Linked DNA regions of Homo sapiens. The protein of the gene in region 1 purifies or fractionates together with the protein of each later gene. This does not show direct contact. Each region holds a gene or a part of one and is shown on either strand. Other genes may lie near its edges. The genes, in order: PYROXD2 and SLC31A1.

Region 1 (3,824 bases):
GCCACGTGTTACTGTCCCTGAAGACCCTGCAGTGGGGCAGGATGTAGAGGTGGAAGTCAGTGACATTGATGATCCTGACCCCGTGTAGGCCTAGGCTGATGTGTGTGTTTGCATTTTACTTTTTAGCGAAAAAAGGTTATAAAGTAAAAAATAAAAATAAAAAATTTTAAAAACAGAAAAAAGCTTATAGAATGAGGATATAAAGAAAATATTTTATATAGCTGTACAATGTTTGTGTTTTAAGCCAAGTGTCTTTTTAAGAGAATCAAAAAGGTTTTAAAAATTAAAATGTTTATAAAGTTTAAAAGTTTGCAGTAAGCTAACCTACTGAAGAAAATTTTTTAATAAATGTAGTGTAGCCTACGTGTACTATATTTATAAAGTGTGCAGTAGTGTACAGCAATGTGCTGGGCCTTCAGTCACTCACCACTCACTCGCCCAGAGCAACTTCCAGTCCTGTAGGCTCCATTCATCATGAGGGCTCTATACAGTATCATTTTTCTTACCTTTTATGCCATATTCTTAATGTACCTTTTCTATGTTTGTTTTTTTTTGTTTTTTTTTTTTTGAGACAGAGTCTTGCTTTGTCACCCAGGCTGGAGTGCAGTGGCGGCAATCTTGCCTCACTGCAACCTCTGCCTTCCAGGTTCGAGCAATTCTCCTGCCTCAGCCTTCCGAGTAGTTGGGACTACAGGTGCGTGCCACCATGCCCGGCTAATTTTTGTATTCTTACTAGAGACGGGGTTTCACCATATTGGCCAGGCTGGTCTCGAACTCCTGACCTCGCTGATCTGCCCGCCTTGGACTCCCAAAGTGCTGGGATTACAGTCACGAGCCACTGTGCCCAGCCTAGACATGTTTAGATACCCAAATACCATTGGATTACAGTTGCCTCCAGTATTCAGTGCAGTAACATTCTGTGCAGGTTTGCAGCAACAGGCTACACCCCACAGCCTATGTGTGGTAGGCTATCAGATCTAGTTTTGTGTAGGTACACTCTGTGATGCTCAAACTGTGATGAAATTGTCTAGCAATGCATTTCTCAGAACATATCCCCATCGTTAAGTGATGCAAGACTGTACTTACAAAGTTATTGTGAGGTAACCATTGTAAACCCTAGTACAGTCCCTGGCATGGAATGAGTGTGTCATGCTGTGATGTGGTATGACATGGCATGGCATAGTGTGGTGTGATATGGCATGGTATGGTATCACATGGTGTGGTAGGGTGTGGTATGACATGGTGTGTGTGGTGTGATGTGATGTAGTGTGGTATGGTATGATGTGGCATGGCATGGCGTGGTGTATGGCATGGTATGTGTGGTATGTATGGTATGGTGTAGAATGGTATAGTGTACTGCGATGTGATACAGTATCGTCTACCATAGGGTACTTGGGCAAGAGGGCTTTTTATAAACTTATATTTAAAAAACAGACACCAGGACCATACACTTGGGAACCTACACACAGGTACCTAAATGGTCACACAAACACAATCGGAGAAAGATGATGGGCAGAGACCACAGAGCCATTAATATGTGGCCCATGCTATTTGTGTTTTGCAGAAACATGGGCTGAGGCTTCATCTTCGAAACCCCTACTCCTTCACCCCCATGCTGGAAGAGGGTGCAGGCAGCAAGGTGCCCAGGTGCCTTCTGCTGGGCACAGACATGGCAGAAAACCAGAAGCAGATCGCCCAGTTCTCCCAGAAGGATGCCCAGGTAGGGAAGGCGACCAGTGACTGAGCTCCTGCTCCCTCAGCAGCCTAGAGATGGGCCTGGTTGGATTGTCCTAGAACAATTGTTCAAAGGCCATGGACACTGCGCCAGGCCACCCCACGTTCCTAGGAGGGCTCCAGTTGGTGGCAGCTCTTGATCTCAGGCACTGCGAAGAGAAGCGGGTGGAGGATGCTGATTAAGACCAGTGGACTGGGAGGCCTGCTCACCTGCGTGTGTTCAGTATGGGGCCACTGTCAGAGGGGCTGTGCCTGCTGAGTTCAAGAGGAAATGCACTGGCACGTTCTTACACTGGCGTGTGCTTCATGCCCCTCCAGCTTTCAGGCAGAGTTCCAGGTGTTTGTCCACATTAAAGCACATGAAAGCCAAAAAGGAGGATGAGGGAAGATCAGAGAAAATTAAGGATAAATAAACTGAATCAGGAACTTAGGACAGGAGAGTTCTAAATATTTATTCAGTGTGGCATCCCAAGGCTCCCTCCTGGCTGCCCAAGGCAACAAAGTGTCCATGATGGTGTGCAGGTCTGGTGACAGGATGAACACATGTCGGATGGAGAATGCACTTTTTTCCCTTGGAACTGCATTCTAGGAACCTGCTGGGTGGCCTTGTCTAGATGAGCCACTGAGTTCCGTAAGGGCCCTGCCACAGTTGGTTCTGTGGATATAGAAAGATTATTTGAATGGCCATTTTGTACCAAGCCTGGATATTAGCTGAGATGTAGCATTAAATCATATCTCAGTGGAGACATTTTTATAAGAAGAACCTAGGTTAATAGAACCCATGTACATTGCTTTTGTTGTGTTAATCTATTGCTGGGTAAAACTTAGAGAACCACAGACACACAGCCTACATGTCTCTTCCACCAGCAGTTTTCAAACCTGGCTGATGATCAGAATCACCTGAGGAGCTTAGCCTTTTATTTTGTTATTTTATTTTATTTGTTTTTGAGACAGGGTCTCACTCTGTTGCCCAGGCTAGAGTGCAGTGGTGCGATCTTGGCTCACTGTAACCTCTGCCTCCCGGGTTCAAGCAATCCTCCTGCCTCAGCCACCTGAGTAGCTGGGATTACAGGCATTCACCACCATGCCCGGCTATGTTATTTTTAATTTTTTTGTAGAGACAAAAGTCTCACTATGTTGCCCAGGCTGGTCTGGAACTCTTGAGCTCAAGCAATCCTCCCACCTCCACCTCCCAAGGTGCTAGGATTACAGGCATGAACCACCACACCCGGCCTGAGGAGCTTAGCTTTTTTAAAAGTGCTTCTTTGGTGGTTCTTTTGTGCAGCAGATTGGAGACCACCACCTGCATCCTCTCGTCCAAATCCTACCCATCTCAGAGGCACTTGAGGGGATTCTGCACAAGGCCAGGTCCCCGGGCCTGCAGGACACTAGCTGTGGCCCTACATGCCAGCGACCACACACGCTGGAGGCAAGTGCCCATTTCCCATCGTGGAAAGTGAGGAGCTTGATTTCTGGTTTTGTCTTTCCATGCTGTCATATTAAAGGCCTGCTTAGAGAAAGCTGTTTAACTTCATTTTTAATAAGACTTCTCGAATGTATTTTAACATGGAACTTTTCTTTATGTAACACTTATTAAAATGCCATGGGTATATCCATGGGTAGAGATGGACCAAAATTCAAAGTCCAGGGCTAAGAAGAGTCAGGTAGGGCCTCCAGTAGCACAGGCTTCTATCACTGCTCCTGTGCCCTCCAGGGAAAGGAGGGTGGGTGTCAGAAACCAGGCTTTCGAAAGTGGATTCTGACATGGGAGCTTGTGGGGTGAGAGGAGGCAGGCTTCTGTGACTGCAGGTGATGAGACGGCATGGGAGACGACCTACAGACCGGAAAAGAATACAGGCAAAGAGGTCTAACTTCTACCAATAATATAGGAAAGGACAGAAGGACAGGCCAGCGTGGCGGCTCACGCCTGTAATCCCAGCACTTTGAGAGGCCGAGGCAGGCGGATCACTTGAGGTCAGAAGTTCTTGACCAGCCTGGCCAACATGGTGAAACTCCGTCTCTACTAAAAATACAAAAATTAGCCGGGCGTGGTGGCAGGTGCCTATAATCCCAGCTACTCAGGAGGCTGA
Region 2 (3,048 bases), on another chromosome or scaffold:
GTTATTTATTGTACTGATGAGCTTACTGGGGCCCAGAAGGATTGTGACCTACCTAAGGTGGCACAGGGGATGAGTAGCCAGGTCTCCTTATCCCTAATTAAGTAATTTCTTCTATACTACCCAACCCTCAATTCTATTTTTTTTTCTTTTTTTCTTTCTTTTTTTTTTTTTTTTCTGGAGACAGGGTCTCCCTCTATTGCCCAGGCTGAAGTGCAGTGGCACTATCTTGGCTCACTGCAATCTCTGCCTTCCAGACTCAAGTGATCCTCCCACCTCAGCCTCCTAAGTAGCTGGAACTACAGGCATGAGCCACCACACCCAGCTAATTTTTTTTATTTTTTGTAGAGACAAGGTTTCGCCATGTTGCCCAGGCTGGTCTGAAACTCCTGAGCTCAAGCAATCAGCCCACCTCGGCCTCCCAAAGTGCTGGGATTAAAGGCATTAGCCACCACCCCCAGCCTCTGTTTCTGTTTTTGTAGAATGTAAACTTTGCAAAGGTGGGAAGCCTAAAAATATTCGGGCAGATGAGCGTGAGAGGGTTTACGGCTTCCCTTTCAGGATCTAAGGTGGAGGTAAGTCGGGATTACTCCTCGTCCTTTTCTCCTCCTCCGGAAAAGGGTTCCTTCTACTGGAGGAACCACAGCCATATCTGGCCAATGTTTATAAGCCTGACAGCCCTGTGCTGTTTCATTTCCATGGACCAATCAAAGAACATTCAAGTACCCATGAGTTGCCAGAGTGGCTGTCCAGTTCCAGCTGAGCTCATGGCAAGAACTCTTCCCTCTTTCTCCTGATCTGCAGAACTCCTAGGAGTCCCTGATTGTTGTGTCCCTGTTTACTCTCCAGGCAACAGATGCTGAGCTTTCCTCACCTCCTGCAAACAGTGCTGCACATCATCCAGGTGGTCATAAGCTACTTCCTCATGCTCATCTTCATGACCTACAACGGGTACCTCTGCATTGCAGTAGCAGCAGGGGCCGGTACAGGATACTTCCTCTTCAGCTGGAAGAAGGCAGTGGTAGTGGATATCACAGAGCATTGCCATTGACATCAAACTCTATGGCGTGGCCTTATCGATTGCAGTGGGAAGTTGTTGAAGACTTGAAGACGTGATTCCTGCTCCAATCATCCCTTCTTGCTCCTCTTTGTGCACGTACACACACACACACACACACACACACACACACCCCTGCTCAACAGAGGTTTAGTTTACAGTCTCTGAACTAAAGTAGTAACCTCCCAAATTGTTTTTTCTAATAAGCTGAGATTCCCATTTCTCTTAAGGAGAAGCCACCCATGAGATGTCTTTTCCTTCTCCATCATCTTAGAGCCAAGTTATATGTTCTTGTCTAATCCATGTAGCTTTTTGTTCAATGACTTGATCATCTGCTTCCTTTTTGAATTTTTAACAGATAGTAAGTAAATTTGGTGGTTTTTTCCCCTGGGTCAGTGATGGAAAGGGGTTAACTTCAGCCAGGATTGATGGCAGCTGAGGGAAATTCTTGCCCAACTAAACCCAGAACTCAAACTTAACATTAGAAAATAAGGTCCAGGGCCGGACACAGTGGCCCATGCCTGTAATCCCAGCACTTTGGGGGGCCAAGGCAGGCTGGATCACCTGAGGACAGGAGTTCGAGACCAGTCTGGCCAACATGGGGAAACCCCGTCTCTACTAAAAATACAAAAATTAGCCGGGCATGGTGGTGGGCGCCTGTAATCCCAGCTACTCAGAAGGCTGAGGCAGGAGAATCACTTGAACCTAGGAGGCGGAGGTTGCAGTGAGCCAAGATGGCGCCATTGCACTCCAGCCTGGGTGACAAGAGTGAAACTCCATCTCAAAAAAAAAGAAAAGAAGGTCCAGCTTTTGGATTCAATGAGTGGGAAATACATTGTGCCTTTCTCTAGATGTGATACGTTATACCAAAATCTTTGTAGTGTGCAGAGCGGTGGTTTGAGACTAAATACAGGCTTAGAACTTGCAGAGTGTGTATTCTTGGATGGCTGATGCATCGACTTGCATTCCCACTTAACACTTTGATTAGCATGAACTTGCCAATCAAAAAATGACAATCAATTTGAGAAAATAGAAATAGATATTTTTAAATAAAACCATTCACAGTTTACTTTGTCTTGATACCTTGGTTTGTCCCAGCTGAAGTGAAGCAAGAGAGTTTGAATTAATTTTTCCATTATAATGTTTTCGCATGTCTGCCTCTAAAACTGTGATTTTCAAGCTTTAGCGTGCATCAGAATCACCTGTAGGGCTTGTTAAAACACTAATTGCTGGGCCTCAACCCAAAAGCCCCCAAAGTGGCACTTCTGAGTTCCTGCTGATGTTACAAGGGACCACACTTTTGAGAATCTGTGCTTTAAGCTAAGGAAATATTGCCTGGTGGGTTGGCTGCCTGGTATTGGGCATGGAAATTTGAATTGCTGATTGGTAGATGGTGTGTCTGGACTTAACTCACGTAGTAAATACTGCTGATCAATACCTAATCATTCCACATTTATTGAGCTCCACCTGTGTGTATGTGTACCCAAGCACACATGTGTGAAGGGCTATAGCCAAAGTATTTTTACTAGCCTGTATGAAATCACTAGTCCTTATTTTTAAAGGTCTATGGTTTCTTGGAAGTAGTTTGATTGTTGAGAGAGACCTTTGATCTGCAGTGTAAATCTACCAGTCATGGGCCAGAAGGGCAAAAGCCCAGCTTTCTCTTTGGAAAGACTCAGGCTGTGGTTTGTTGATGGCCAGGTTTTCCTCAGGCTCCAACAACTGTGCTTATACCAAGCAGATCCTCATCCTCCATATAATCATCTTTGTTATTCGTGGGGGTTTAATTACATTACAAGTGGCCAAAACCCCTGTTCTCAGTGAAGAACCACATTGGATTTGTATTCTGTTCAGTTGTAGTCTACACTGCAGTCTTATTCCTGGTTCAAACTACCTCTTTAAATTGATTTGTCTTGTGCTGGTCTGTTAAATCCTGCCCTCCTTGGTGCTAGATCCAGTTGTGCCTCAGGGCAGAGGAAACAAAACACAGCTAT

What was found.
Region 2: the proteins of PYROXD2 (region 1) and SLC31A1 purify together in Homo sapiens (co-immunoprecipitation; one large-scale study listed by IntAct). This does not show direct contact.

Annotation. Positions count from the first base shown.
Region 1 is NC_000010.11:98,397,998-98,401,821, reverse strand, and holds part of PYROXD2 (pyridine nucleotide-disulfide oxidoreductase domain-containing protein 2), read left to right. Parts: intron 1-1,564; coding exon 1,565-1,720; intron 1,721-3,824. UniProt on the Homo sapiens protein: Probable oxidoreductase that may play a role as regulator of mitochondrial function.
Region 2 is NC_000009.12:113,259,426-113,262,473, forward strand, and holds part of SLC31A1 (high affinity copper uptake protein 1), read left to right. Parts: intron 1-846; coding exon 847-1,048; 3' UTR 1,049-3,048.